Linked DNA regions of Homo sapiens. The protein of the gene in region 1 purifies or fractionates together with the protein of each later gene. This does not show direct contact. Each region holds a gene or a part of one and is shown in the gene's direction. Other genes may lie near its edges.

The links.
Region 2: the proteins of PTPRE (region 1) and PCMT1 purify together in Homo sapiens (affinity purification with mass spectrometry, with the first as the bait; one large-scale study listed by BioGRID). This does not show direct contact.
Region 3: the proteins of PTPRE (region 1) and STATH purify together in Homo sapiens (affinity purification with mass spectrometry; one large-scale study listed by BioGRID and IntAct). This does not show direct contact.
Region 4: the proteins of PTPRE (region 1) and CORO1C purify together in Homo sapiens (affinity purification with mass spectrometry, with the first as the bait; one large-scale study listed by BioGRID). This does not show direct contact.
Region 5: the proteins of PTPRE (region 1) and CPVL purify together in Homo sapiens (affinity purification with mass spectrometry; one large-scale study listed by BioGRID and IntAct). This does not show direct contact.
Region 6: the proteins of PTPRE (region 1) and IPO7 purify together in Homo sapiens (affinity purification with mass spectrometry, with the first as the bait; one large-scale study listed by BioGRID). This does not show direct contact.
Region 7: the proteins of PTPRE (region 1) and TNPO1 purify together in Homo sapiens (affinity purification with mass spectrometry, with the first as the bait; one large-scale study listed by BioGRID). This does not show direct contact.

What each region holds. Positions count from the first base shown.
Region 1 is NC_000010.11:128,063,513-128,067,966, forward strand, and holds part of PTPRE (receptor-type tyrosine-protein phosphatase epsilon isoform 1 precursor), read left to right. Parts: intron 1-2,562; coding exon 2,563-2,682; intron 2,683-4,454. UniProt on the Homo sapiens protein: Isoform 1 plays a critical role in signaling transduction pathways and phosphoprotein network topology in red blood cells. May play a role in osteoclast formation and function.
Region 2 is NC_000006.12:149,808,431-149,812,563, forward strand, and holds the end of PCMT1 (protein-L-isoaspartate(D-aspartate) O-methyltransferase), read left to right. Parts: intron 1-2,185; coding exon of another isoform or gene 2,186-2,198; 3' UTR 2,199-2,989; downstream 2,990-4,133. UniProt on the Homo sapiens protein: Initiates the repair of damaged proteins by catalyzing methyl esterification of L-isoaspartyl and D-aspartyl residues produced by spontaneous isomerization and racemization of L-aspartyl and L-asparaginyl residues in aging peptides and proteins.
Region 3 is NC_000004.12:69,994,122-69,999,171, forward strand, and holds the start of STATH (statherin isoform a precursor), read left to right. Parts: upstream 1-1,844; 5' UTR 1,845-1,904; intron 1,905-4,301; 5' UTR 4,302-4,316; coding exon 4,317-4,367; intron 4,368-5,050. UniProt on the Homo sapiens protein: Salivary protein that stabilizes saliva supersaturated with calcium salts by inhibiting the precipitation of calcium phosphate salts. It also modulates hydroxyapatite crystal formation on the tooth surface.
Region 4 is NC_000012.12:108,658,026-108,662,479, reverse strand, and holds part of CORO1C (coronin-1C), read left to right. Parts: intron 1-321; coding exon 322-451; intron 452-3,560; coding exon 3,561-3,742; intron 3,743-4,454. UniProt on the Homo sapiens protein: Plays a role in directed cell migration by regulating the activation and subcellular location of RAC1. Increases the presence of activated RAC1 at the leading edge of migrating cells.
Region 5 is NC_000007.14:29,066,527-29,070,980, reverse strand, and holds part of CPVL (probable serine carboxypeptidase CPVL isoform b precursor), read left to right. Parts: intron 1-4,454. UniProt on the Homo sapiens protein: May be involved in the digestion of phagocytosed particles in the lysosome, participation in an inflammatory protease cascade, and trimming of peptides for antigen presentation.
Region 6 is NC_000011.10:9,439,198-9,443,651, forward strand, and holds part of IPO7 (importin-7), read left to right. Parts: intron 1-1,257; coding exon 1,258-1,464; intron 1,465-2,883; coding exon 2,884-3,000; intron 3,001-4,454. UniProt on the Homo sapiens protein: Functions in nuclear protein import, either by acting as autonomous nuclear transport receptor or as an adapter-like protein in association with the importin-beta subunit KPNB1.
Region 7 is NC_000005.10:72,892,418-72,896,871, forward strand, and holds part of TNPO1 (transportin-1), read left to right. Parts: intron 1-721; coding exon 722-829; intron 830-959; coding exon 960-1,118; intron 1,119-1,198; coding exon 1,199-1,286; intron 1,287-4,040; coding exon 4,041-4,139; intron 4,140-4,454. UniProt on the Homo sapiens protein: Functions in nuclear protein import as nuclear transport receptor. Serves as receptor for nuclear localization signals (NLS) in cargo substrates.

The sequences.
Region 1 (4,454 bases):
TGCGGCAGAGCTCAGGCTAGAAATGAACATGATTTCGCGCTTATTATCCAGACTAGAGAAATGCTTTTGGAAAACGTTGGTATATTGAAGAAATGTTGATTTGTCATCCGAATATATTTAATTAGCTGTTTCTAATTCAAAAAAGGATGCATGTACGTTATAAGAATTTGAATCATTGACAAAGAAGAAAAGTTGAACTGATTCGTTTCCTAATGTAACAAGTACTCATTAGCATCTGCTGTGCTGGGCCAGCTCTGTCCCAGGTGCAAGGAGTAGGGGCTCAAATTCAGGGCTGAGAAGTGGTGGCTGTGGGGAGCCTGGGTGCGGGGGTGGGGTTGAGTGACAGGCAGGGAGCCATGCCATAGGCAGTGAGCTCACTCTCCAGAATGAAAGAAGAACTGGGAGCCTGAGGGACACTTACCACAGGTGGGGCGAAGTTAGGAGGCTGTGCTTCTGGCGTGTTCTGGCATGAAGGCCCGGTTCAGTGGGAGCCGTGTGTCCTGCCCGGCCCTGCTCAGGGCCTGCTGTGTCCTGAGCTCCTCAGTCATCTGCTGGCCTGGCCCCAGCAGTTCCCAGGCATTGTAGCGAGGACTGTGGGGAAGGGCTGCCATTTTTAGATGGGAGTACCAGGCCTTGGGGAGCTCAGCTGGGGCAGAAGATGGGTGGCAGGAGCCCACAGGAAGGGCAGGCTGGGAGGTGCTCTGGTCCCCGCAGTGCCAGCTTACTAATTGCCACCCAAAACACAGGAAGCAGCCTCCAGCCACCGTTTCTGGTCAGGAATAGGATGGAGGCTTTCATTCTGCTCTGGGGGGAGCTGAAACAGGACTGTGGAGGGCCACCCCTTTGCCCTTGCAAATCTTGCCCTTGTCATGCTTTGTCATGGGGAAGAGGGAAGAGTGACAGAGGGAAGTAGGGGATTCCCAGCCCAGGACTCTTCACTCTGCCTGCGCTGTAGCGGCCATGGAGGAGGACACCCACGCGAGGGAAAAGGAGGCTGACCCTTCATCAGGAGCCTCAGGGTCCCCCGTGACCCATGGCCCATAGGGACCAGTCTTCCTGGGGTTGGTGCTCCAAGCATGAGACCAGCACAGAAGCAGTGGGGCTCAAGGACGCCCTCACTTCCCTCTTTCAGTCATTCTGCTGAAAGTGTCACTGGCATTTTCTCTCCATCTTCCCCCACAACCTCCTACTGGATTTTTCCACTCCTGTGACTCAGTGCTGGGCTGCTGCCGCGTCCTCATTCTCACCAATTCAGATGAAATCATTTCTCAATAGAGTTCCCTTTTTCTTAATTGCTCACACTTCTGTTGTGGTTTCCTTGGCTTCCACATCCTGGGCTCTGCATTGCAAAACACAGCTGCCCTGGCATCTCATGATCGGGTGGGAGGGAGGCAGAGGGAGGGGGTATAAAACCAGCCACCAACACTGAGCCCTTGAGAGGCTGACACATGTTCTCAGTTCCTACTGGAGAGCCTTCAAGGTGAGAAGCTCAGGAGGGACCCCAGGGCTCCCCATAGGGCCAAGACTCACCCAAACCGGGACATGTAGGCATTTGCAATTCCCCTGGGCTGCATCAGAGATGGCCTGTGACCCACAGCCCCGCAGCCCCGCCCGGAGCCAGGTGTAAGGAGGGGGAAGTTGTCGGTAGCCGTCATAACACAATGATGCTGCTCTCTACTAAATACCAGATGCTGTTTGTTTCATAAGACTGTTAATCCTGGAGGCTTGACCACGAGCTGTGCTGCTCAGGGGCCATTCCCTGGATATACTCTCTGACTACTGGCAGGCTTGTTCCATTCCAGACATGTTTCTCTGGCAGATGAAGTAGATCTTTTCCCCCTTGAGGTGGGTCCTCATTCACTCGCGAAGTGATGGAGGACACCACCGGGCAGGTGCTGCGGGCGGTGCTGCAAAATGAAAGGGCTCCTGGAACGTGTATTTTGGGTCATTCTTGCTTCAGAGGTCGGGAAGGTAAAGAAATGGGCCTGTCTGTAGCAATGCACCCTCTTCTGCAGACTCCACGGCAGCCTCGTCCCTGCTAGAGAAAAATGAAGATCGTTAGACCAATCATAGGTTCATCACTCTTGAATGGCAGACTGGCAGTGGTGCAAATTAACTTTGTCCTTAGTGAACTGAGCAGGAAAAACACAAATTGCTGAATCCAGTGGGAAATGTCTGGGGGGAGCACCGTCCTTGCCCTCTAGCCTGAGGGTCACTTGGAGTTAGGTGCCCAGCTCTGAAGGCTACAGGCTCAGCATAACTGGTTGATGGTCAGTTAATAAAATGTATGGGATTCGTGAATGAATGAAGAAATGAGACATTGTTGCTGTCTACATCAGAAAGCCTTGGGGCATCCTAGTCATAGTTTCAAGGCTGCTGTTCACCAGTTACGCAGCCTCAGTTTCCCCATTCAAGAGGTCGACACACGTGAACTTGTTTCTCAGCTGTGGGAGCTGTGTGACTCCAGCTGGTGTGTGTGAGGCCTTCTGTAGTTGGGTGGGGGGATGTCATGATGCATTGCACCCACAGATCTATTTGCTTCTATTAAATTGTTCCGTGCAGGAAAAGTGCCATCAGTACTGGCCCGACCAAGGCTGCTGGACCTATGGAAACATCCGGGTGTGCGTGGAGGACTGCGTGGTTTTGGTCGACTACACCATCCGGAAGTTCTGCATACAGCCAGTAAGCATCTCTAGTTGCTGCCCTTCCAGAAAGATCATTTTCAGAGAGCATCATGCCCAGAGTTAACATCCTTCTGCATTTATGAAGTGCTTTGCTCCCAGCCCGGCACTGTCGCAGCCCTGGCTGAGAGGGTGCAGTGGCCAGGCTGTGATAGGCAGACATGCAAGAGGGCCAAGACACCAGAGGCCGGTGCACAAGGGTCTGCAGGCAGTGCTGGGGGCTCCTAATTCCTAGTGACTCCTCTGGGCCTCTCCAGGAGGAAGACCAGTCATTGGAGGGGCCTGGGGGTGAGGTCCTCCCTCAGTAGCACAGTGACATTTCACACACTGACTGGGAGGTGGGGTTTTTTTCTAACACTTTCCGAATTCTGTCTGAAACCTCCTCGTTATTTTCCACACTTGGGTTCTGCTAGTTCCACCACCCCAAAAGGTTTAAGAGAGAGATCAGTAAAAATATGTGTATGCAAAGCAGATGAAATCAAGATATAGAAGAAAGTTTAAAACCATAGAGAAAAGACAGAAGACCATTTTGTCAGGATTTAAAGATACAGTCATTGGCATAATTAGGTCACAAAATAAGTGTCTGAGGTTCCAAGAAGCCACAGCAAAAAAGGAAAAGGATGAGCTGATTATTCTTATCCTATCCCCTGCTGGCATCTCTCCCAGAAATGTGCACACAGGCGCACACAGGCACTCACATGCACACGCACACACATACTCCCACACACAGGCACACACATGCACACATGCACATACACCCACACACAGGCATACACATGCACACACACCCACACACAGGCACACACACGTACACCTACCCACACACAGGCACGCACATGCACATACTCCCACACACATGCATGCACATGCACACGTACACCCACACACAGGCACACACATGCACACACACGCACACAACCGTACAATGCATGCACGTTCACACACACATGTGCACACACACCCCACTCACATGCACACATGCACACATTCACACATGTGCACACACATACACCCACACACATTCACATGCACACACATGCACACACGCACACACATTCATGCACATGCATACATGTGCACACACACGCACCCACACACGCACAGATGCACACATGCACATTCACACATGTGCACACACATACATCCACACACATTCACACACGCACACGTGCACACATGCACACATTCACACATGTGCACACACACATACACGCACATGGGTGCACACGTGTACGCACCCACATTCACACATGCACACACATGCATACATGTGCACACATTCACACGTGCGCACATACACACATTCACCCACACATACATGCGCACACATGCACACATACACATGCATACATGTGCACACACATGCACACACATCTACTTCCAAATACGCTGTGTATCACCTTCCGTGATCTGGGCAAGGGAATTAAACTCATGGGCTCTGGGTCCAAAAGCTGAGAGAGGCTCTGAGGGCAGGTCTGGGAGACTCCAAAGAGCAGGCCGACTGCATCATCTGTCCTCCCAAATGTAAGACAGCTTTGCCCAAGGAAGGATGTGCTGTTGGTGATTACTCAGCACCACCGGCCTGAGGTGGGACTGTCCAGGCAAGATGGGCCATGGCCGCCCTGCTTGCACGGGGGTCTGTGAGCACACAGACCAACTTTGGGGATGTGTCTGGCTGCTTGGGCCCTGCCTGACCTGGGCATAGACGGTTGCTGCGGGCCCTGTTCTGTGGCCCCAAAAGCAGCACATGTTCAGAGTCGGCAGGGGTAAGGT
Region 2 (4,133 bases), on another chromosome or scaffold:
GCACGCGCTGGCAGCAAGTTTTTGTTTTTCCCTAGCACCTCTAATTTTAAAATTCAGGTCTATAAACCTAATTTCTTTTCCTTTTTTAAAGTATTTTTTAGACAGAGAGGATAGTTGGAAAAATGGTACCTATGTTGTTGAGGGGGCATTAATTTATTTACAGTATACTTAATGTCTTGCAGCAGGTAAATTGTAGTAAATTATTATTATTATTATTGTTTTCTGAGATGGAGTCTCGCTCTGTCGCTCAGGCTGGAGTGCAGTGGCGTGATCTCAGCTTGCTGCAACCTCCGCCTCCCTGGTTTAAGCGATTCTCCTGCCTCAGCCTCCCGAATAGCTAGGATTACAGGTGCATGCCACCACACCCGGCTAATTATTTGTATTTTTAGTAGAGACGAGGTTTCACCATGTTAGCCAGGATGGTCTCGATCTCCTGACCTCATGATCCGCCCGCCTTGGCCTCCCAAAGTGCTGGGATTACAGGTGTGAGCCACTGCCCCTGGCAAATTGTAGTAAATTATTTAAAAATAACAATATCTTTGGCTTGGGCATGGTGGCTCACACCTGTAATCCCAGCACTTTGGGAGGCTGAGGTGGGCAGATCACTTGAGGTCAGGAGTTCGAGACCAGCCTGAGCAACGTGGTGAAACCCTGTCTCTACTAATAATACAAAAAAAATTTAGCCGGGTATGGTGGTGCCTGCCTGTAATCCCAGCGACTCGGGAGGCTGAGGCAGGAGAATTGCTGGAACCTGGGAGGCAGAGGTTGCAGTGAGCCATGATCACACCACTGCACTCCAGCCTAGGTGACAGAGCGAGACTCTGTCTCAAAAAAAAAAAAAAAAAAAAAAAGCCAAAACAAGAAAAACAATATCTTCAGTTCATATTCTAAAAAGCAGAAGTGAATTTTACTTTATGAATAGAGCACTTTGCAAATAATTCTTTGTTGACCAAATATTTTAATGCCTGCATGAGTTAAGTAAAAGCTGTTCTATGAGAATTATAACATTGTTATTTGGAAGAATATATTAAGAGGAAGCAGACTTATGATTTGTCATTTAATAGATAATCCAATACTATAGGATAAAGGCAGCTTATTGGAGAAATGATTTTAAAAATATTTTCTTGCACAATTTACAAAATTTAGTTTAAAAAAATTGTCCAGTAATTTACCCCCACTTACTTGTGAAATTATGAGCTCTTTATTTCTTCTTCCCTTCAAATTTATCTTAACAACTTTTTCAAAACTTTTAACTTTAATTTTTATTGCCAACAAGTTGCTAGGATAGTACAAATAACTCCTAAATCTCTTCATCCAGAGTCATCAATTATTATCATTTTTCTACATTTCTTTCCCCTCTTTCTATATATACATATATGTAATTTTTTTCCTTTTTCTTAAACCACTTGAGACTTAATTATCAATATCATGCTTCTTTACCCCTAAAGTTCTTGTTTTTGTCACTCACATTACCTTCAGCTATGAGGCTTGTGGGCTTCTCTCGTGGTTTTATTCATTTTTTCACTTTTAACAGTTTTACTGAGGTATAACTGAGATACCATACAGTTTATTTTAGACTGCATTTTTATTCCTTCCTTCCTCTCACTGGCAGTTGCTGGTACAGTGCTGCACCTGGCTGAGTGAATGGTTTCTTTTGGAGCTGATAAAGCTGCCTTATGAAATCAGCTGACAGGTATATTATACCTACAGATGATGCCTTTTCTCTCAGAGCGCTTGGGTTGAGATTGACCCACTCCACAATTGCTAGTGGACATTCTGAGCAAAAGACCACATTTCTGTCCAATTTTGTGAATGTAACTATCAACTCATTTGAACTCTAAAACACTTAAGTTGTCATTTTACTATAGTGTAAAGATGACCGTAGATCTAAAAGATATTTTTTCTGAATTTTGACATTGAAGGAAGAAATCTATTTTTAGAAATCAAAAATGAAGAACTCACGCCCTTTAGGTTGCATACTTGGTTCTGGAGTGGCATGGAAGATGTTTGGAATGGCTGACCCTCTGTTGCTTTCACTTGGGTTGTTTGCATTTTTATTTTTTAAATATATTGCTTGGTGATCAGCGCATTTTTATTGACTTAATAGTTGTGTCTAAACTATTATAAAGCCAAATTGGGTAGTGTGTAACTCCTACTAATGTATTTCTCTCTTTTTTCCTCACAGGGATGAATTGTAAAAGCAACATCAGCTTGACCAGTATAAAATTACAGTGGATTGCTCATCTCAGTCCTCAAAGCTTTTTGAAAACCAACACCATCACAGCTTGTTTTGGACTTTGTTACACTGTTATTTTCAGCATGAAAATGTGTGTTTTTTTAGGGTTTCTGATTCTTCAAAGAGGCACAGAGCCAAATTGGTAGAGGAAGGATGCAAAGTATAAATTTGTGTAATATTACTTTAACATGCCCATATTTTACTTGGAAATATTAAAAGAAAGGGTTCTGTAAAATGGAAAACTTAGTTTGTGAATTGATTTTGAGGAGTGGTTTTTCTTTTCTTGGACACTTAATTCTGTTCTGATATTAATTTATCAGATTGCTTTTGTGCATTGGATAACACCACCATTCACAAGTTAAGATTCTTGGTATTTGGATATCTGTTAGATGCTACTAAGAAAATAGAGATGAGCTTTCTTTTTAAAGCTTTTGATGTGGTGTCATAGAATAGCATGTTGTAGATACAATCAGCTGCTTTGTTACCTTAAAACTAGGCATTTGTAAATATTAAACCATAAGATGGCAGGTGATGTCCTGTAAACACTCAGCTGTTCAGATTGGACATAACTGACTTAGTTCTTCCCTTCTCTCTCTCTCAAAATTATAGGAGACTTGTAGTTTAGTGTGGTTTTCTGTTTCTAATTTGCTGCTGATAATGTATATGAACTTAACATGCTGTGTAAGCTGTGTCCTAGTTCTTGAACAGTTTATGCAGTGCTGCTTTGCCAAATAAAGTTAAAAGTAAAAGAGGCATTGGTTGTTTTTGAATATAGAAGGAAGAACAGCAAGTCCACCAGATAGGGAGTGTTTACGATCATGGGAAAAAGACTGTTTCTCTGGTTGTTTCCTTTTGCGAAGTCTGAGTAAGTAATTAGCATTAATCCAACTGTACATTGTAGAATGTGACTACACTGCTCCAGGGCCAGGACCGTACTTCAGTCGTCATTTCTCTTTGACTCCCTAGCCCAGGGCTTGCCCTGTAGTAGCTATACAGTAAATGCTGGTGAGTGAGTGAGTGGTGAATGAATCGACTTAAAGTCAGGAAAGAACAGGATTGAGGGTGAACAGACCAAAACCCATCTCTCACCTATACAAAGATTTATTAATATAATGACTATAGCTGAATTTCTAAGAAGGCAGTAGCACTTTGGGATCTTATTTAAATGTTGTGATTTATAACTTTTATAAGAAGTAGTTCTGGAACTGAGGAAATATAAGCTCCAGAATGAGCAGAATCAGCACTCCCAGCAAAGCCCTTCTACTGGGTGCATGTGTGGGTGCGTAATTCTGGCAAAGAACCTTCGTGGGCATGTGAACACTCCCCCCAGCTCTTGAAAAAAGTCTTAAATATTACTTCTTTACAAATGGCTTTTAGGCTGGGTGCGGTGGCTCACGCCTGTAATCCCAGCACTTTGGGAGGCTGAGATGGGCAGATCACCTGAGGTCAGGAGTTCAAGACCAGCCTGGCCAACATGATGAAATCCCCTCTCTACCCCTCTCTACTAAAAATACAAAAATTAGCTGGGCATGGTGGCACACACCTGTAATCCCAGCTACTTGGGAAGCTGAGGCAGGAGAACTGCTTGAACCAGGGAGGCAGAGGTTGCAGTGAGCCAAGATCGCGCCATTGCACTTCAGCCTGGGTGACGAGTGAAACTCTCTCAATAAATAAATAAATAAATAAAATGGCTTTTAAAACTGATGCATCTTTTCACAAGTGCCTCTTCTTGGGTAAGGTCTTAGACACAGGAAACTAGCATTATTTGGTGCCCAAAACTTGAGAGTTTAAATTTATTGTTGGCTTCAGTTTGCTGCTGTTAATTGCTTCCATACTCAGGCCATGAATCCCTGTGGTCCAGGACTAGTCCATTTTAAATAGTTGTAAAGGTCAAATA
Region 3 (5,050 bases), on another chromosome or scaffold:
CAATGGCTCATGACTGCAATCCCAGCACTACTTGGAGGCTAAGGCAGAAGGATTTTTGTGGTCAAAAGTTCAAGACCAGCATGGGCAACATAGCAAGACCAAGTCTCCACCAAAAACAATTTAAATTAAATTAACCAAGAGTGATAACACATGTCTGTAGTCCCAGCTAAACATGAGGCTGAGGTTGTAGGACCACTTGAGCCCAGGAGTTCCAGGCATCTGTGAACTATGATCTCACCAATGCACTCAAGACTGTGCTATGCAGCAAGACCCCATCTCTGGAAAAATAAAATAGTTACTGAACCCTATGTAACTTTTTTCCACTCAGAATGTAAAGAGATTGTGTTTGTTTTACACATGAGAAGAAACTTTGTATCTATAATGCTTATAAATCTCATGACAAAAGAATAAGAATAATATCTATCTAATTTAATTTGAATTATTTATTTGCCTTAAGAAATGATTTATATTTTCTTGTATATTACCCAGAGAGTAATCATAATTTCCAGTAAGGCTGTTCCAATACAGCATAAAAATTTACCTAATAAATACTTCCTTAAAAAATCTGATACAAAATTAAACCACAAATTATCTTTACTGGTTAAAGCCTAAGGATAACTAATGCATTCAAGAGACAAATATGTGGTTGTTTTTTTTTTTATGTTTTTGTGGAGATACGGGTCTCACTATGTTGCCTAGGCTATTCTTGAACTTCTATGCTCAAGCAATCCTCCTGCCTCGGCCTCCCAAAGTGCTGGGATTACAGACATGAGCCACTGAGACCAGCCTTGTTTCAAACTTCACAGTACCCAAAGAATCACCTGGAGATAATGTTAAAATGCAAACGCCTTAGGACAACCCCAAGATTCTGACTCAGCAAGTTTGCGAAGGTGGACTAAGAATTTACATTTCCACAGGCTCCAGCTGATGCTGTCTGTGATGTTCCCATATGGCACACTCTGAGGAACAATGCACTAGGCTGTATAACTTACCTCAACTTTATATATAAGTTTTTGATATTCGTTTCTTAGTACATTGAGTTATCCAACCAGCAGTGAGTAGGGTAATTTTTACACAAATTTTCCTAGGAATGTAATGAAAACATTTTTTCCTTCACTCTAGTGTAATCATGTCAACACATGGCTGCTATGGAAAAATATGTAGCCTTAAAAACTCCAGGAAATTAAATTGAATTTCCAAATACATATATTCAGTCATATGTGAGATATGTATCAGTGAGCACTTAGAGTCATTTCACCATAAATATAATAATTTTTTATCATATAGTACCCAAAAGATTACTGAATTTGGCAAATGTTTACGTTCACTTTGTAACTTAAAATATTCTAAAGTCAATAGAAGATGGTAAAAGTATGAGATAAATAATGATTTGAAGAAAAACTCTTGAAGTATATGAAGACTGTAATTTTATTATGCCAGTTACCACGAGTTATCAGAGAACATGTAAAATCTTGATAACATGGTAAGTATTATTTGTGTCATAGAGTTGTTCCACCTTGGACACATACTTGTGGAAACATCTTTATCACTGCAATTATTTCTATGCCTGGTTTCCTCCAGCATGCTTTTCTGTCATCTGACTCACTCAGCGCTAGACTAACAGTGGGATTAACATGCAGTGGGTACAGTTGTTTCCTGGTTACTTTGTCTTCACAATCATCTATTGCAAAATCACTTTGTTACGGTTATTTTTATCATTTGTAGAGACAGATTTTGGGCATTACTTTTAGTTTCCATAATGTGATCTCATAATTGCCATTATTTAACAAAAACAAATGGGGGACTTCAGAGTGTTTAAATACATTGGCCCTCTAGGGTAGCACATCATCTCTTGAAGCTTCACTTCAACTTCACTACTTCTGTAGTCTCATCTTGAGTAAAAGGTAATATGTTCATGTATAATCGAATATGTTGTCTTAATCTAGAGTGTTGCTTCCTAAAATCTTTTGAAAACTAATTATAAAAATGTGTATTTATGTAATGATAATTTCTCATAAAGAAACAATTGAGAGAAATGATGACCTTCTTAGGATCTGAAGGTAAGTTGAGAATCTGAATAACTATACATTGAAATCAGCAATCATCATGCAAAGTAAATAATGTGGAATATGGAGACATATTCCAACTTCTCTCCTGATGGAACTTCTGAAAAGCTTTTTATTTCCTTGTCTACGTACTGGCATCTACTCTGCTACTTACTACTTTTACCTTTATTCGAAGTTCATATTTTAAGAAAATAGCATACGTTCTCTTTTTTGCAAATGTATATATTGTTTCACAAGTTTAACTTTTAAAAATTTACTTTTTTCCCATAAGTAAACATTTCTCACTACCTTTTCATTGACCTTTCCATCATTTTAAACAGTTATGTCATTCTGCATAATAAAAAATGTTGTATAACAGTCATGCTTTACTGCCTTACTGTTTTATATTACTTAAGTTGTTTTCATTCAGTTGTGATATGGCAGAAAACAAAGATTTTACTATTTCATATTTTTATTATTTTTCATTGGGGAAATATTTTTTTAAAACCATGACATATATATTTATATATCTATGTCTATATATCCATCTTTCAGTTTATCAAGGTTAGTAAAACAAAACTACTCTTCTATGAGCATTTTTTGATTCCATACTTTCAATAAAATTTACAGGTATAAAATACACTAAAGTTTTTATGCTTTTTGCATCATAAAATGACTGATGGGTAGGTTTATCTATCAGGTGATAGAAAAACCCCAAAGTACATATTATTTTTACACTTACTCTAATACCAGAAATTTCCTTTTTTTTTTTTTTTTTTTTTTAATTTGAGACAGAGTTTCGCTCTTGTTGCCCAGGCTGGAGTGCAATGGTGCAATCTCGGCTCACCGCAACCTCCACCTCCCGGGCTCAAGTGATTCTCCTGCCTCAGCTTCCTAAGTAGCTGGGATTATAGGCACTCACCACCATGCCCAGCTAAATTTTTATTATTATTATTTTTAGTAGAGACGGGGTTTCTCCATGTTGGTCAGGCTGGTCTTGAACTCCTGACCACAGGTGATCTGCCCACCTTGGCCTTCCAAAGTGCTGTGATTACAGGCATGAGCCACCACACCCGGCCAGAAATTTCAGTTTGAATAACTGAGGCAAATCAGTGAATAAGTAACAAAGCAAATGCCATAAATCATGAGTTCTGCTTTATGTTTTGGAGATTTGGGGTTATTAATAACAGTAATTTTTTTTATAATTAGGTAAAAAATATTCTTGTAATGTTTTATCACAAGTTATTGGTAAAAGAGATTAAAATAATGAAGACCATTACCTTTATATGAATTACTCTATAGTTTTCAATAAACAGGTAAAAATGTCATTTATTTGTAACTCTTGTGGCAATTATGTGTTTCACTGAAAATGTCTTTATTTAGATGTTTATAATTTACAAATAAATAATCTAACGTTTTTTGTTTAATAACAAAGGAACTGGGTTAACTGGCTTATACTGTTTATGATAACATATCACAGTCCCAGATAAGGTTAATTTTGTTGAATGAGATTATTTAAAATATTAAGTCATCTTCACCAATTCAACTTCTCAGAGGAGGTACGAATATTTTCTCTGTGACTTCTTATCAGTTTGATTGTTCTCTACCCAGTATCATTAATGTTCTAATCTGAAGGTGACCCCATTTTTGCAACTCTCAAGACAGAAATCTGGCTCATTTTCAGTAACATTATAAAGCGATTGCCCATTGCTGGTCATTCTAACATCCAAACATCTCTTTACACTGTACCTTAAATATCATCCCTAATGTCATTATTTAAGGCGCCCCATAATATCCAGTTCTATCTTCCCTACATTTTGAACTGTTCCAGTTTTATCTTCTGATAAACTGCTCCAGTTTTATCTTCCCTACATTTTGAACTGTTTGCACTTTCAATATGGTATCCTCCCTCTTTTTCATTTTCTTGCAGTCACCCAACACCTCTTTACTCATCCTGCATAATCCAACTCAAGCTTTACTTTCTTCTTTACCTTCATACCCCTATTCTCTTGGTCTGTGTAAGGTGTTGATTTGTGTGTTACTCTAATGCCTTAGCATTTCCATATCAATACACTCACTTTTACTTATCAGTGTCTCCAACAAGTCTCCAAGTTTCATGATGTCAGGCAATGGGTTTTAATTGTCTTTCTATCTGGAGTGTGTCTCCCAGTGCTTTGGAGCGTAGTATAATCAATAAACTTTTGATGGGCGAATGCAAGAAAAAATGTGATACTGAATTTCCACATATGTTTTCAGAGAACCCAGCCAACTATGAAGTTCCTTGTCTTTGCCTTCATCTTGGCTCTCATGGTTTCCATGATTGTAAGTATATCAGGACATTTGAAGAATATGTTCTCAGTACCTATCCCAAGAGTCTCTCTATTCCTTGTGTTCTGGCATATATTGGTGTTTACTTGAATACAGCTTTATATGTTTAAATGTTTCCATATGAACTTTTTTTTGTACTAACCTACATAAGCTATATAAGGATTTAGAATAAATAGTCATTATTCATCTACAGACACTAAAGTATATTTAGCTTAGTGTGAAATAAAAGAAAGTTTTACTGAACTTCTTAAATATGTGGAACTGAGAGCTTCTAAAAGTATCTTTAAACATGTAATGCTCTAGACAATCTGAAGTTAGAAATCTCAGGAATGAACTAGGTGCACTTGAGTGGAATTCAAGTATTAGAAGATGTCAAAGTAGAAATTTTCAAGTCATTCCTTGCAAAAACTAACTTAAAATTAGTATACAATTATTTAGCACACACTTTCTAAAATAAAGCTGCTTATTTTTAACTATAAAACAAAACTTCAGATCTATGACATGTTATGAGTTCCCAGCTTTTATTGTCATTTACTACTATGTATCACTAGGTAAAGCACTTGACTTCTCTGGAGCTCTTTCTTCTACTCTACTTCCTTCTATTTCTCCTGTCCCTTTTCTATGACATTAGTAGGAAACTGGCCATGAAAGAATAAAAATAGTTCAACTTACCTGGT
Region 4 (4,454 bases), on another chromosome or scaffold:
ACAGCCGATACTTGGGAGTCTGAGGCAGGAGAATTGCTTCAACCTGGGAGATGGAGGTTGCAGTGAGCCGAGATCGCGCCACTGCACTCCAGTTTGGGTAACAGTGTGAGACTCCGTCTCAAAAACGAAAAACAAAAAACAAAAAAACAAACAAAAAAAAAACCGCCTAACACGGTCATTTCACAACATTCTGCCTTTCATCCAGATATCACTCTATGTTCTGTTTACATAGAGCAAATCTTTATAGTGGATGGTCACTGTAAATGTGATAATGAAAGGCAATAGCTTTCATGTGGATCATCTTTCTTCCTTGTCCAACAGGTATGGCAGATCCCAGAAAATGGACTCACCCTTTCCCTGACTGAACCTGTGGTGATTTTGGAAGGCCACTCAAAGAGAGTCGGCATCGTGGCTTGGCATCCAACGGCCCGCAATGTGCTTCTTAGTGCAGGTGGGAGCTGAGCTCAGCGGTCCTCCCCTTGTCTTCCACTCTTGTGGCTCTCTGAGTGGGGGGAAGCAAATGTGTTTTGGTTGTGTGCTATATGGTTTTAAAGCAGATTATTAGGAAACCATGGTGAAGAGTATTGGGGTGCACTGCTCCCCCAGCCCACATACATACTTGTGTGTGTGTGCACGTGTGTGTGTTTCAAGGCCATTTCGACAACCTGAGGAAAGCTATGAATTTCCTGCTATAATTTCAGCAGGTTTCATGGTTCCTGCCAGGGCCCTCCATGAACCATAGTTTTGGTTATTTCTGATATGGTAGAAGGTGTACTTTGTTGGGAGCCAGAAGCCCTGTGTTCCCTCTGTGGTGTTGCTGCCAGCTTTGGGAGACCCCTATTAGGCAAATACACTCCTTCCTTTTAAAGAAAACTTTGATTTTCCCCTGCTATACAATTAGTACATGTATACTGTAGAGAACATATATAAACAAAAGGAAAAAAAAATCACTTTTAATCCCACCACTCAGAGAGAAGATCATTATTACTTTTTTGATGTTTCTTTCCGAAAGATATTTCTGTGCACATACATAAATTATTTTACATACAGAGATGGGTTCATACACTTTACACATGGGCTGCTTTCTGCACTTGGTGGTAGGCTGTGACCCTTTTCACGTGCCATTAAGCTCTCTTCCTATTTTTAATGACTTCATACTAATCCATTTTCTGGATATACCTCATTTTACTTGATAAGTCCCCTATTTCTGGACACTGGTGTTGTACAGAAATCTTTTCCTTTATCTAAAATTGGAGATTTCATTTTCTTTTATGAAAGCAATACAGAGAGCATGAGGGAACTTTGTGGGGTGATGGAAATATTCTGTATCTTGATCATAGTAGTGGCTACATGAGTTTATACATTTGTTGAAACTTAGCAAATATATACTTAAAATGGGTGCATTGTATTGTATGTAAGTTATACCTTAATAAAAGTGGTTTATTTAAAAAGTGATACTAATGTTAGAGATAGGATTTTTAAAGGTCTTTCCCCTCACCAGTAAAAAGGAGGAGGGGCAGTTCAGTTTTTAACTGGGAATACACAATGTTTATGACTCATAGTGAGTTAAATAAAAAATTATAATGCCAAGTAACTATTGAAACTAAGGCCCACTTTTCAAAAAAGATGCCATGTTTTTTATAATCACCATCGACTATACTTGGGAATCATTTTTGATGTTCTCTCAGAACCTCAGTCTGATTAAGGAGAGGAAAAAAATTCCAGAGCTGGAATTCCTTCATGGAAAATTCCCTGCTACCTTTCTCATCAAGGCTCAATACAGGGCAGCAGCAACAGACTGGTCTGCATTCTCCCTTTTACATGTGAAGGAGAATGGGTGATTGTCGTGTTCTGCATATTTTTAGGCTATATGATCCAGCTGCCGGGGCTGAAGTTACCTGTTTGCCTATAGGGAAGAAGGCAGAGGAAGGTTCAATTGTCCATCCCAGAGTTTAGCTTCAACTTTTGTTACTGTTGTGTAGTTTTTTTCTCCAGTTTCCTACTTCTTTTTTTTTTTTTTTTTTTTTTGAGATGGAGTTTCGCTCTTGTTGCTCAGGCTGGAGTGCAATGGCATGATCTCAGCTCACCGCAACCTCCGCCTCCTGAGTTCAAGCGATTCTCCTGCCTCAGCCTCCCAAGTAGCTGGGACTACAGGCATGTGCCACCACACCTGGCTAATGTTGTATTTTTAGTAGAGACAGGGTTTCTCCATGTTGGTCAGGCTGGTCTCCAACTCCTGACCTCAGGTGATCTGCCCGCCTCGGCCTCCCAGGGTGCTGGGATTACAGGCGTGAGCCACCGTGCCCGGCCAGTTTCCTACTTCTAACCCTTAGGTAACTTAAGTATCCTGGATGTTAGTGACTATTTTTTCTAAATGATTTCCAAATTGCTTTGTTGGCAAGAATCCACCTCTAGGATGTCCTTCCCGTATTTTGCTTCATCCTTGAACTAACATCCTAGGAGCAACACATGCTGCCTCTTTTTAAAGGGGCCTGGAGGCGTGGGGCAGACCCTTGAAGGAAGGAAGGAGTTGGTGAGCTGAGATGGTGAATGAGTTGACATTGTGGGCTTCTTTCAGAATCCGTTTCTGAATCTATGTAGCTACTTGATTACAGTTTGGGCTTCTCACCATGATCAGAGCAGTCTTGGCCTATTTTTCTCTTCATTTAAAGGTACAGATCTGTTGTGAGCAAACAGGCCTTACTCTTGGCTTTTCCCTTCCACTGTTGTACCATCTTTAATATCCCAAAGCTGTGTCTTAGAGTCTCACTGATTTGAATAACCTGCCACCCAGAGTTTTTGTTGAGTGCCCTAAACAGTCATTTAAACCTTTTACTTTTAGTTTATTTGGCACGTGAAAAGGGTCACAGCCTACCACCAAGTGCAGAAAGCAGCCCATGTGTAAAGTGTATGAACCCATCTCTGTATGTAAAATAATTTATGTATGTGCACAGAAATATCTTTCGGAAAGAAACATCAAAAAAGTAATAATGATCTTCTCTCTGAGTGGTGGGATTAAAAGTGATTTTTTTTCCTTTTGTTTATATATGTTCTCTATAGTATACATGTACTAATTGTATAGCAGGGGAAAATCAAAGTTTTCTTTAAAAGGAAGGAGCGTATTTGCCTAATAGGGGTCTCCCAAAGCTGGCAGCAACACCCTGATGCTTGTTTTACTAGAAAGGGAAACTTGAAGTCACTTGGGTCTACCAGCCCAGTTAACTCTTTAAAGAAAATAGGGTTCTGTTTTGGTGTGGTTCTTTGTTTTTGTTTGGTTGATTGTTTCATATGAACCCAAACTTAACAAGTTGTGTTTTTACTTTAACACTTTTATTTCTTTTATACAAACTTTTTCCTTTGTCACTTCAGTTTTTAACGCTGTTAGTAAGTAGGGCCTCTGGTAGGGCCTCTGACAATCAGCCGCATCTTTTCTCTCTCTCTCTTTCTCTCTCTCTCTCTCTGCATATACATATGTGTATTCTCACTGTATCTGTAGTTTTCTGAGTGTGTTACATAGGTGTTTCTAATCTTCTAATCTCTGATGGTTTTGCCTGTTTTAGGCTGTGATAATGCCATTATCATCTGGAATGTGGGAACAGGGGAAGCCCTTATAAACTTGGACGATATGCATTCAGACATGATTTACAATGTGAGCTGGAACCGGAATGGCAGTCTGATCTGCACAGCTTCCAAAGACAAGAAAGTGAGAGTCATTGATCCCAGGAAACAAGAGATTGTTGCTGTGAGTATTCCTAGGATGAAAACTCAGTAGTTGGAGCACTTGAGTGAGTGTGAGCTTTCTGCTTTTTAAGGCAGGCAGCGGTACTGGTCAGTGGGACCCTGTTGTGTGTAGACACCAACTGTGAATAAGAGAAGGCTTATAAAGGCTTCTGTCTCCCCAGTTGTGCTTCTCTCCAGAGTTGTAAATTTTCCAGCTTTTACTCAAGTCTCTCACTTTGTAGCCTTTTTTCACAAAGAAATAGTTTGTATCAGTTCACTAGAGTCCTTAAGAGTTTATAAGTCTTGATCAATTAAACCAATTGGCTGCATTCCTGATTTTGCAGCTTAGTATTGAATATTGATGAATCAATTCCTCACCCTTTTCCAAACACAGCTGTTAAAGATGCAACAGGTGGCCGGGCATGGTGGCTCACACTTGTAATCCCAGCACTTTGGGAGGCCGAGGTGGGTGGATCATTTGAGGTCAGGAGTTTGAGACCAGCCTGGCCAACATGGTGAAACTCTGTCTCTACTAAAAATACAAAAATAAATAAATAAATAAATAAATAAATGCGCAGGGCGAAAAGCAACAAGTTCTCTCATCAGCTCAGTGTCTTAGTTTCTGCCACCCAAACTGGACCTCAACAAAATCACATACCTTGACAAAAGATGGACATTTGGGTCTTCAGTCGGTGTTGAAACTACACATAGTAAGTCTGAGAAGTCCTCATTTG
Region 5 (4,454 bases), on another chromosome or scaffold:
TAATTTGTTTGTTATTAGACACATATTCTGTAACAGTATATCTAATGTCGTTATTGTTATTAAAGCAGAAATCTGATATTAAGTCTTAAGGGCATTGCAGATCAGCCAGTTCAGATCAAAATAGGAGACATGCAACCTTGGAGAAAAGGGTAGAGGATAATACAAAGTTATTTTTCATTTTACAAGTAGGGTGTTGGGACACTATCAGAAATCCCCCAAGGCAGTGACCGCCCTTGCCGTGAATTCTGATAGCAGCTAGCTGTGCAAATGGATGGAGCAAAGGGAGTCCTGAGCCATCCTACAGAGCTCCACCAGGCTCTCCTTTCTCTGTGTCAGGACACTAAATGTGGCTGCAAAGTGTGGATTCAGAATTTCTTATGCAATTGTAAACACAAAGGAAGAGGGGTCTCCTGGGGCACATGTAGGATCATGCTTCCACTTGCAATGACAGTATTTTCAAGGCTTTCTGCTGTGGTAGTCACAGAGGGGACGAAGGAGTGAAACTTCAGTATTTAGAATTAATACCAAATTTTATGTGGCATGAGACCAATTTGCAATTGAAACATTTGATATGTTTTTAAAGAAGCACACAGGATAAAGCAATTGTCAAGAGCAAGAGCATTTGAGAGGCCCATATTTAGAAAAAAAGCAGAAAGATGACTGGTACATAATGCAGCAGGCTAAACACCTACAGGATTAGTGAAGCTGTAGAAAAGTTCAGGTGTGTTGTGTATTCAGAGATAATGAGAACATGACCCACGAGGTGAGAATCTCTCCCAAACCGGATACGTCAGAAACCGGAACCCCAAGCAGGTAAAACGTTTGAAGGCTTGGAATGTCTTTTTGACCATTGGTCCCGTATCTTGAGTGATGAATTAAAACAAGACCTTTGCTTTTTCAAGGAAAATAGATAAAATGATACTTAGGACAGTAAACAACTTGTGGTTGAAATGTGTTTCAGTGACTGCAAAGGAAGACTCCAACAAATCCTGAAACCCAGGGGAATATAAATGTCAGAATCTCAAGCCTAAAATGATAAAGCCTGTTTGACGCTCTGATCCTTTAAAATGATTTAATTAATCAAAGAGTAGTAACTCAGAGCTGGAGAGTACTCTGGAGATAGGTCATCTACTGTCCCTATGCATTTACATGCACACACACACACACACACACACACACACACACACACACACACACACACACACACACATTTACTGGTGAGTGGAGAGGATGCCGAGCCCCAGGGGATAGCAATGAATTGCCGAAGGATACACAAATAGATTGTGGCAGGCTGAGGACTGGAATTGCTTCCCCCATTTCCACCACAGTATTTATCCTATGGTAATTTTCAGGCATTCTGTAAAAATCCTGGATCGTCTTAGATATTCTGCAAGATGTGAAATGACTGATCCTCTGTCCAGTATTACCTCCCTTTCCATGATGATTTTCTGAATCACAAAGTTCTTAGTTTCACAGGTCTTGACCACCCATGTTATTTTTTGACAACAACTGACTTTTTCTTTTTTTTTTTTTTTTTTTTGAGACGGAGTCTCGCTCTCTTGCCCAGGCTGGAGTGCAGTGGCAAGATCTCAGCTCACTGCAACCTCCACCTCCCAGGTTCAAGCCATTCTCCTGCCTCAGCCTCCCGAGTAGCTGGGATTACAGGCACTCGCCACCACGAATGGCTAATTTTTCTTATTTTTAGTAGAGACGGGTTTTCACCGTGTTGGCTGGGCTGGTCTCAAACTCCGGACCTCAAGTGATCCGCCCGCCTCGGCCTTCCAAAGTGCTGGGATTACAGCTGTGAGCCACCATGCCTGGCCAACAAATGACTTTTAACTCTTTCTAAAAGCAAAGTTATTCTTCAAGGTTGACTTTATATTCCCACTGGTGTTGAAGATAATTTCTAACAATGAGTTCCAAAAATGATGTGTGCATTCAGAATGACCCTGGCCTATGGTGCCCCATCTGGGTGAACAAATTAGAAAAAGACACCTCGGCCGGGCGCAGTGGCTCACGCCTGTAATCCCAGCACTTTGGGAGGCCGAGGCGGGCGGATCACGAGGTCAGGAGATCGAGACCACGGTGAAACCCCGTCTCTACTAAAAATACAAAAAAGTTAGCCGGGCGTAGTGGCGGGCGCCTGTAGTCCCAGCTACTCGGGAGGCTGAGGCAGGAGAATGGCGTGAACCCAGGAGGCGGAGCTTGCAGTGAGCCAAGATCGCGCCACTGCACTCCAGCCTGGGTGACAGAGCGAGACTCCATCTCAAAAAAAAAAAAAACAAAGAAAAAAAAAAAGAAAAAGACACCTCCTCTGTGGTGATGCAGTCCTGTGGGTTCAGGACGGGGCAGGCAGATGCCTCCATTGTGTGAGGATAAGAGGTGGCCACTTCTCCAGATGCAGCCCTGAGCCAGGCTCTCCAGCTCAGCGAGCAGAACTTTGGCTGGTTCCCTGTCCCTTTGCACCCCTTAGCCACAGGCATCGCATGGAGCTGCACAACCAGATGTGGGGCCCTGAGCAATGGTAGCATTGGTAGAGAATACTTACTACCACCTCCACCCACACCGCCTTCTATGGTGATAACCCTTTTCATTCTTGGCCTCTAGCCCCATGGCAATAGGAACTTGAATAAGTTCTTTCATGTTTGAAAAAGAATATGAATACAGGCCGGGGGCGGTGGCTTACACCTGTAATCCCAGCACTTTAGGAGGCCGAGGTGGGCAGATCACAAGGTCAGGAGTTCGAGACCAGCCTGATCAACATGGTGAAACCCCGTCTCTATTAAAAATACACACACACAAAAAAAAATTAGCTGGGCGTGGTGGCAGGCGCCTTTAATCTCAGGTACTCGGGAGGCTGAGGCAGGAGAATTGCTTGAATCCGGGAGGCAGAAGTTGCAGTGAGCTGAGATCTCACCACTGCACTCCAGCCTGAGTGACAGTGCGAGACTCCATCTCAAAAAAAAAAAAAAAGAATATGAATATAATAATTAGTCTATTTTCTCAAGCATTGAAGCATGGCCAGAAGGAATTGGCAAGTAGGAAGCATTGCAGGCTGACTGCTGGGAGCCAGTGTGTGCGTGGTTGAGTGTGCAGGCTCAGGAGTCGTGGCCTAATCATCTCATCTCTGACATTATTAGTGAGGTGTCCTCGGCAAGTTGCTTAAACTCATGTGTCTCAGTTTTCTCACCCATAAAATTAGAATAATAATACCTTATCTGATAAGAGACCTAAATTTGTACTTGATAGATTGTTTTTAACATGTGCTGACTTCATTTCTTTGAATTCTTTTGTAAGAACTCCTTACAACTTAATATCATCATCAACAACCCCCCTCCATGTCTTCAACCTCTTCTGTGACTATTTTCTTCTCTTCATCTTCTTGCTTTGCCAGAAACCTGGCTCTCCCCTGATGCTGCAGTCCCTGTGGTCCTCTTGAGTGGGGGCTGTTCTCTCTCTTAGCTTGTCTGTATCACTTGGTTCATAGGTGGAGTAGGTGTCTTCCTTGCTCATCATGTGACTTTCAGATCATGTTCCCTGCCTCCTCCTAAAGCATTGAGCTTTGACTCTCCTGTCCTCAGACAGGGCCTCTGACCACTTCCAACTGTGTCTGCCTACCAACCCCTGGTTACTCCCTCTCATTTGAATAGCTGAGCTCCTTCCTCCCTGTCACTCTCTGCAGCATTATTCTTGTCATAATTCCTGGTAACTGCAGGATCCACATTGACGATCCTTTTGGGACCTGGTCCTTGGTGCCTCAGCCTCCTCTTTTTCAATGATCTTGTTCTCCTCCTCATCTTAGCTGCTGATTCTCATACCCTAAAATGCTGGCAGCTGATCCACAATCACACATTCAAACATCTTTCTCCAACTACCACCTCCTGTCCGAATCTCTTCTGCTAATGTACTGATCTTACAGCCCTGCAACCTCACTACCTTTCAATCCATTGATCCTCCTGCCTCTCCACTATCTCTAACCCCCTCAAGTCTCCATTTCTCTAATTACCTGTCTTCAACCCAGGGTCAGTCATTCCATACATTTCCAAGCCCAAAGCTCTTTTGCATTTCTTCCAACTCCTTTGGCTGAACCACAGCCCTGGCTCAATCTGCCTCTCTGTCAGGCTGTGCTTGTCTCCACACAGCTGACAATGGCTGGAGGAAAGCATGCAACCATGCTGACTGCTCTCCCGCTCAGCTGGTGACTGGGTTTTTTAATGTCAGCCCAAAGATAACTTCCACCAGCTCCAGGAACCTGCATCTGCACCATATCCTGCGTCTTCTCTCCATGTCATCTGGTGAGCAGTTCATGATCCATGTTAAGGCACCCTTCCCACAAGGCTTACTCCCATAGGCAAGGCCTTTGAGCTTACTGTGTCCTCTGCCTGGAACCTTCCTTCCCCTAGATGTCTGCATGGCTCTATTCCTCTCATCCAATATGTCTTTACTCAAATGCC
Region 6 (4,454 bases), on another chromosome or scaffold:
ATCTGCCTCCCGGGTTCAAGCAATTCTCCTGCCTCAGCCCCCCAGATAGCTGGGATTATAGGCACGTGCCACCATGCCCAGCTTATTTTTGTATTTTTAGTAGAGACAGGATTTCACCATGTTGGCCAGGCTGGTCTGGAACTCCTGACCTCAGATGATCCACCCTCCTGGGCCTCCCAAAGTGCTGGGATTACAGGCGTGAGCCACTGCACTGAGCCGTGAAACCCCATTTCTTTAAAAAAAGTTGTGGGGATTACATGAGGGAATCCTTGACGCTTAAATAGTGCTTGGCAGATGGCACTGAATTAACAGTATTAACAAAGGTACACATATCATTATAGTTACTATTACAAGATTTATGGGGGTTTTTTTTGTTTGTTTTTTTTTGTTGTTGTTGTTGAGACGGAATCTCGTTCTGTCGCCAAGCTGGAGTGCAATGGCAATCTTGGCTCACTGCAACCTCCGACTCCCGGGTTCAAGCGATTCTCCTGCCTCAGCCTCCCAAGTAGCTGGGATTACAGGCGTGTGCCACCACACCGGCTAATTTTTGTATTTTTAGTAGAGATGGGGTTTCACCGTGTTGGCCAGGGTGGTCTCAATCTCCTGACCTCATGATCTGCCTGCCTTGGCCTCCTAAAGTGTTGGGATTACAGGCGTGAGCCACCGCGCCCGGCGAATTATGGGGTTTTCATTTTATTTTTAAGCTTCTAAAGATTTATGGTCTTAATGTTGACTAAATTTATTGGAGACATCCATCCTATCATCTATTAATTCTAAAACCTAAGCATACTTGCACTATAACATTATGTTAATTAAATGTTGATAAATACATTTTATCTATAAGACTGTACACTATCAGTGTATAAATTGATAAAATATTAAGAGAAATTATTATAAGGGTTTCAACATAAGATAGCTATTGCTATTTTTGTCTTTTATCATTTACTAACTTAGCCAGCCTTTTAAAAAAAATCTTACAAAAGGTTTGGTGGGTGTAACGGTAGTGTGTTCATACTGCGCAGTTCTTTTTCAGATGTCTAGTATTAAGAACACATTAAATCAAGGTTGGTTTTCTTGGACTCCTATGGAAATTTTCATTTCTATTCATTATTGAACATGTATTTAAACACCAATTCCTGGAGCTCTCTCTTGTCACTTGTGACTTGTAATTTACTGACAGTGATTGAGATGATTGTCAATTTGTTGAGTAACAAAATATGTCATTGTTATAAAAGTACTTATATTATGACTTGGCAGAGGAACTGGGGAGTGATGAAGATGATATTGATGAAGATGGGCAAGAATATTTGGAGATTCTGGCTAAGCAGGCTGGTGAAGATGGAGATGATGAAGATTGGGAAGAAGATGATGCTGAAGAGACTGCTCTGGAAGGCTATTCCACAATCATTGATGATGAAGATAACCCTGTTGATGAGTATCAGATATTTAAAGCTATCTTTCAAAGTAAGTCAACTTGTTACATGTGGATCCATTTCATTGAACAAATCTGTTGTAGTTTCTGCCTGCCCTTTAAAGGAAGAGTTTGGAGGATATCAAACCCAGACTAGAAAAGGCTGGTTAGGCAAAGTAACCAAAATTATTTCTAAGGTTGCCATAGTTTCTGAGTATTCTTTATTCATCCTGTTATTTTACATTTAGATTGTAATTTTGGAAGATTATAGGAAAATAATGTAGTTCAAAAAAGTATACAGTGACAGTGCCTCTTTGCTACTTCTGATTCCCAATCTCCCAGCTTTCCTCAGAAGTAACCACTCTTACGTGTATACCTGTTTGTTGTATGTTATTATTTGTGTGTATCCTTTTTTCCTGCCCAAACCTATACTTAACGTGTTAAGAGTATATTAGCATTTATGGCATATGATCTTATAATTCTTTTTTTCCTATATTCTGTGATGTGTTAACTAATTTAATCTATTATTACTAAATTAGCACTTTCGGCATAATCAAATTTTTAGCTTTAAACAACTAATTTAACCTTGAGATTTTTGAATTATATATGCCTAGGATTCTGGAGCCACGTACACTGTTAAATATTCCAAGAAAAGTCCACTGTTCCTATAATGTGTCATTGTATGTGGCTCCAGAATACTAGGTTCTGGTTGGTTTTTACCATCATTTACTTGGATTTCAACAAGGTATAGCATTTGTGTTTTACCATCCACGTTAAGAAATTAAATTTCCCCTGTATTTGAAACATCTTTTCCTCTCAGAGTTAATTGCTGTTATATATCATTTCCTATGCACTGGGAACTGATGAATATATTTTTTGATAGAATACATTATCTGATAACCAAGGATTTGAGTCTTCTAAGCCCATGACAAGGCAGTTTTGATGCAAGGTTACAGAAGCACAAAGTGCTGGTTTCTGAGCTACATGGCAGCAAGAACTGATTGAGGTGCCAAACTTGTTGTTTCTGTGCCTTGTACTTTGTAGACAGACACCACATGTCAGTCCCTAAAGAATGGTTCCTAACACGGGGCCCATGTACCACAGTAGCCTTGATGATTTTCAAGTTGCTTTAGCTCTGAATCTTTTAAGATGGTTGGGTTAGCTTTATTCCTGAAGTCTCCCTGGTTTGTTACTTACTATATAAGAACTAGTTAGGCTGAGTCCTTATTTGCTGGAGAGATGGATCGTAAGAATGATTAGAGTTTTTGGAGCCATAAAGATAAGCTGTAGTTAATTTTTATTCCTATATCTGTTGTTTCACAAATATGGTAATTTTAAAAATTATTGGGAGAATATAAAATAGATCAGAATTTCAGTATTGCCTCGGGATGGAGTAGGAGGAATAGTGTAGAACGGAGCTACCAAGCCTCTCTTATTCATGTTGTTTTTCCCTTGTTTTTATTTTTTGATAGCTATTCAAAATCGTAATCCTGTGTGGTATCAGGCACTGACTCACGGTCTTAATGAAGAACAAAGAAAACAGTTACAGGACATAGCAACTCTGGCTGATCAAAGAAGAGCAGCCCATGGTATGTTAATTAACTGTAACTCCTCTTTAATTAGTGACTTTTATAGGTTTAAAATTTTATATCGTTTAATTTTATATCATTAAATTTTATCATTTAAGATGATATAAAAGGTATAGTTGTTGCAGGTGATAGGAATTAACTCTAATCTGAGGGATTTAATTCAAGATAACTTAATTTTGGCTTTGGCTACAGTTGGCTTTTTTCGTTTTTTTTTGTTTGTTTGTTTGTTTGTTTGAGATGGCGTCTTGCTCTGTCGCCCAGGCTGTAGTGCAGTGATGCGATGTCAGCTCACTGCAAGCTCTACCTCCCGGGTTCATGCCATTCTCCTGCCTCAGCCTCCCAAGTAGCTGGGACTACAGGCACCTGCCACTACACCTGGCTAATTTTTTGTATTTTTAGTAGAGACAGGGTTTCACTGTGTTAGCCAGGATGGTATCAATCTCCTGACCTCATGACCCGCCCGCCTCGGCCTCCCAAACTGCTGAGATTACAGGCGTGAGCCACCACACCCAGCCCCAGTTTGTTTATTTTTAAGTATAATTGGGCCAGGTGTGGTGGCTCATGCCTGTAATTCCAGCACTTTGGGAGGCCACGGTGGGTGGATTGCCTGAGCTCGGGAGTTTGAGACCAGCCTGGGCAACATGACCAAACTCTGTCTCTACTAAAATACAAAAAACTAGCCAGGCATGGTGGCACATGCCTATATTCCCAGCTACTCAGGAGGCTGAGGCAGGAAAATTGCTTGAACCTAGGAGGCGGAGGTTGCAGTGAGTTGAGATTGCACTACTGTTCTCCATCCTGGGCAACAGAACGAGACTCCATCTCCAAAAAAACAGAAACAAAAAAAACTAGAGAACACAGCCAGACATGGTGGCGCATGCTTGTAATCCCAGCTACTTGGGAGGCTGGGGCAGGCAAGTCCTTGAACCCAGGAGGCAGAGGTTGCAGTGAGCCGACATCACGCCATTGCACTGCAGCCTGGGTGACAAGAGCAAAAGTCTGTCTCAAAAAAACAAAAAAAAGTACAGTTGAAGACTACTTTCAGTTTGCAATAACTTTAGCTCATGGTGATGGTTAGATAGTAGAAAGTTCTGTTAAAAATGTAAACACCTAAGCCGGGCGCAGTGGCTCACACCTGTAATCCCAGCACTTTGGGAGGCTGAGGCGGGTGGATCACCTGAGGTTTAGAGTTCGAGACCAGCCTGACCAACGTGGAGAAACCCCATCTCTACTGCAAATACAAAATTAGCCAGGCGTGGTAGGCATGCCTGTAATCCCAGCTACTCGGGAGGCTGAGGCAGGAGAATTGCTTGAACCCGGGAGGTGGAGGTTGCGGTGAGCCGAGGTCGCGCCATTGCACTCCAGCCTGGGCAACAAGAGCGAAACTCCGTCTCAAAAAAAAAAAAAAAAAATTTAAACACTTGGCCAGGCGTGGTGGCTCATGCCTGTAATCC
Region 7 (4,454 bases), on another chromosome or scaffold:
CCTGTTATTTCAAGGTTCACCATCTTCTACCGTGGATTGTTCTTAGCCAAAGAAGTTAAATTTTCTATGACCAAGAGCAATTCTGGGCCCAGCAAAACAAGAAGAATCATTATGGTTCATTTTTTGTATGCAGTCGTCCCTCAGTATCTGCAGGGGATTGTTTCCAGGACTCCCCTTGGATACAGAAATCCAGCGATGCTCAAGTCCCTTATATAAAATGATGTGGTATTTGCATATGGCCTATGCACCTCCTCCCAATATACTTTAAATCATTTTAATTGTTTTTCTAAATACTTTTGATTCAAGATTGGTTGAATCCATAGATACAGAGGGCCAACTGTATATATATTACTTTCCGGCAGGATCTCAGAATGTGCCCAGTAAAGTCCATTCACAACATTGACCAGGATGGGAGCATGAAATGAATCTCTTCAATTTGAGGGAAAAATATGAACACATAATACTCAATCTGTCCTTTAAAGATAATGTTTCTTGTAGAAACGCTTCCTCTGAGTAAACCTGACCTGATTGGCTGGCAAACTAACAACAATGAATGGCTTCCAAAAGAGAGGGTTGGGGTGGGGGGAGGGGAACCTGCTACTGTAGAAACTAGTAGAGCAAGCTCATAAATGATCAGGATCCTGTTGAGCGCAGTTTCAAGCATTCATCATAATCTTCAGTATACCCAGAAAGTTTAGCATGTGTACTTTATTCTTCCTAGTGCCTATCTTCAGTTGCCACAGCACTGCAGTCTGGATTCCTTCCGTACTGTGAACCTGTGTATCAGCGTTGTGTAAACCTAGTACAGAAGACTCTTGCACAAGCCATGGTAATTTTTTTAAAATGTCTTCCTCTTCTTGACATGGTGGACATTTTTCTAAAGATAGGTATAATGTATACAGACTTTTTAAGTAGTTAATTAAAACCAAACTTACAAAAAACATTGTGTCTAATTTCAGCTAAACAATGCTCAACCAGATCAATATGAAGCTCCAGATAAAGATTTTATGATAGTGGCTCTTGATTTACTGAGTGGCCTGGCTGAAGGACTTGGAGGCAACATTGAACAGCTGGTAGCCCGAAGTAACATCCTGACACTAATGTATCAGTGCATGCAGGTGAGACTTGAAAGGTGAAAATGAATTGAAGCCTGTTTCTCTGTGTCACATTGGGGTTAATTTCTTCTTATTTCTTGTAGGATAAAATGCCAGAAGTTCGACAGAGTTCTTTTGCCCTGTTAGGTGACCTCACAAAAGCTTGCTTTCAGCATGTTAAGCCTTGTATAGGTATGAATATTTTCTACTGCTATGAATATGGTTTTTTAAAGTTAACATTTACATCAGCTTTGTTTTTTTATTATTAAACTGAAATTGCATGGAATCCCAACATTTATAAATGTACACTTTATTGGTTAAAGTAAACTTGCTGTGATTGAAACAGGCAAGATGGCAGGAACCCCTAATATTTCCTTGAGCTTGCCATCATCTCAGCTTTTTAGGTACTCCTGTGACTGGAGGAAAGCTTAGTAATATACTTTAGAGTAAAGGACATGCCCACCAGGGAAGCCTTGGTACCATGGACTAGTTAATAGATTCTTTTTTGAGTAGCCACCTTTTTGGTAGAGGTACACAGAAATAGTAATAATCAGGTTTTCTTCTCTAGCAAACCAGCATACTTTTTCAGATATTGCAGAAAACTTCCAACAAATGTCACTTTAACTGAGACTGGGCCTGGGGGCTCACACCTGTAATGCCAGCACTTTGGGAAGCCAAGGCAGGCAGATCACTTGAGGTCAGGAGTGCGAGATTCGAGACTAGCATAGCATTTGTCTTGGCCTTCTGTGACAATGATAAGAAATTCCTTGAATGTTGTACCCGGAATTGTTCTTAAACCTATGGGTTATAAATGAGTTATGGGATTTTTTTCCCCCTTTTCTGCATCTCAGCATGTTGGGTAACAATTATTTTAATACAGCCGGGCACGGCGGCTCAGACCTGTAATGCCAGCACTTTGGAAGGCCAAGGCGGGCAGGTCACGAAGTCAGGAGATCAAGACCATCCTGGCTAACACGGTGAAACCCCGCTTCTACTAAAAATACAAAAACTTAGCCAGGCGTGGTGGCTTGTGCCTGTAGTTCTAGCTACTTGGGAAACTGAGGCAGGAAAATCGCTTGAACCCGGGAGGCAGAGTCTGCAGTGAGCTGATACTGTACCACTACACTCCAGCCTGGGCAACAGAGCAAGACTCCGTCTCAAAAAAAATTATTTTAATACTTCATTTAAACCTTAATTTAAAATATTAATTGAATGTTTTGTCATCTGATATAATTGTGCTTTTGGATAACCATTTCTCAAAAAACTAACATAATTAACATTAATTATGATATATTAAGAACCATCAAGTTTAAACCTAACAGTGTAATGAATTCTTATGGGAAGCTTATCATTCTCATATTTACCACCTAATTTAGTTTTTTAGTTGAAACTTATATGAAAGGATTTAATTTTTTTATTATAAAGTGTTTAAGACGTACAAAAGTAGAAAAAATGTAACAAACCTCCTATCACCCAGCTTCAACTGTCCAGTCCTGTTTCCTATATACTGTTGTCAGTGGTGAGACACATAGATCTCAGATATTTTGGAGCAAATCTCAAACACAGCATTTGAAGTCTTAATATTTTAGTACATACTATACTATCTCTTCTTACAATTGTTTTTTGTTAAAGAAACCATGTTTTTTATTCTAAAGAGTTTCCTTTACTGTGGATTTTACTGATTGCATCTTTGTTGTCTTTAACATGTTCCTCTGTCCGTTGTATTTACTGTAAATTGTTTGGATACAGAGACTGAGGTTTAATGAGATTTACGTTGTTTTGTTTTTAAGACTTTATAGATGGTATTGTGTACTTAGTGTACATAGTGTCTAGTTGTCCCTCCTTTTTTTTTTTTTAATGTTACCAATCTTGATGATTGTCTCAATTAGTGGTTCTCAACTAGGGGCAATTTTGCCATTCGGGGAACATTTGCCAGTGTCTGGAGACATTTTGTTTGATGCTGGAGAGGTGCCATTGATGTCTAGTGGGTAGAAGCAAAGGATGTTGCTAAACATCTTATAATACAGGAGACAGCTCCCCTTCCCCCCAACAAAAAAATGATCTGGCCCAAACTGTCAATATTGCTGAGATCAAGAAACCCTGGCTTACATCTCCTGATTTATTAGGAGTTTAAAAAATTATGATATTCTAATTCTTCATTTAATAATGAAGATACTTATATAGGGAGACATTTCCCATATCAATAAATTACTATCCTGAGGTAAAATCATATAGCAGAGGCAAGATAAATACTTGATTCTTTTTTTTATTTACCAATTTTCAAAATAATGAATTGATTCCTATCATCCTCCAAAGGTATCTTTGATGTTTCAGAGTTTTGTTTTTGTTTGATTGTTTTTAGTGCTAGTGTGACTTCATGATGTTCAAGCTGTTGTACTGCTTGCAGTGAGAACTTAAGTTGGCTCCCGAGTCCTTTCATTATGACAAGATAGTCCACTTATTTTGCACATTTCCTGCCTTTGCCTGTAATGTGACGTTTTCTGAGAGTCCATTTTTTTTTAGTGGAAAATGTTATTCAGAGACCACAATCAGAGCACAAGAGTGAAAATTGCTTTAAAAGCCAAAATCATTGATTTTTTTTTTTTAGTCTAATTACAAGAGATTACTCTGACCAACTCTTTTTAGTGGTATGTAAAATATACCCAAACTTGTATTTCCTGTTCCACATTATTTGAAAGTTCATTGGCCAGATACTGTTTTCTTCAGTTTCTTAAGATAAACATTACCAACTCCTTTAAAAAATATTTTTAAATACAGTTGCCTAGTTTATTTCCACCAATTTTAAAATTGATGTTGCAGTAATTTTTTTAATGGTGAAACTTGTTATTTCTTGCTTAGATTTCTGTTTCCACCTAGTAGATTTCCTTTAAAGTACAATATACTGCTATTGAAAAGTTTACTACATAGTTTAAATTTTTTTTCTAGCTGATTTCATGCCAATATTGGGAACCAACCTAAATCCAGAATTCATTTCAGTCTGCAACAATGCCACATGGGCAATTGGAGAAATCTCCATTCAAATGGGTAAGATGTTTTTCCCTATTTAAAAGCATAAGGCCTGGCGCGGTGGCTCACGCCTGTAATCCCAGCACTTCGGGAGGCTGAGGCGGGCAGATCACCTGAGGTCAGGAGTTTGAGACCAGCCTGGTTGACATGGTGAAACCCCGTCTCTACTAAAAATACAAAAATTAGCTGGCGTGGTAGCGGGTGCCTATAATCCCAACTATTTGGGAGGCTGAGTCAGGAGAATCACTTGAACCTGGGAGGCAGAGGTTTCAGTGAGCTGAGATTGCACCACTGCACTCCAGCCTGGTGACGGAGCGAAACTTTGTCTCAAAA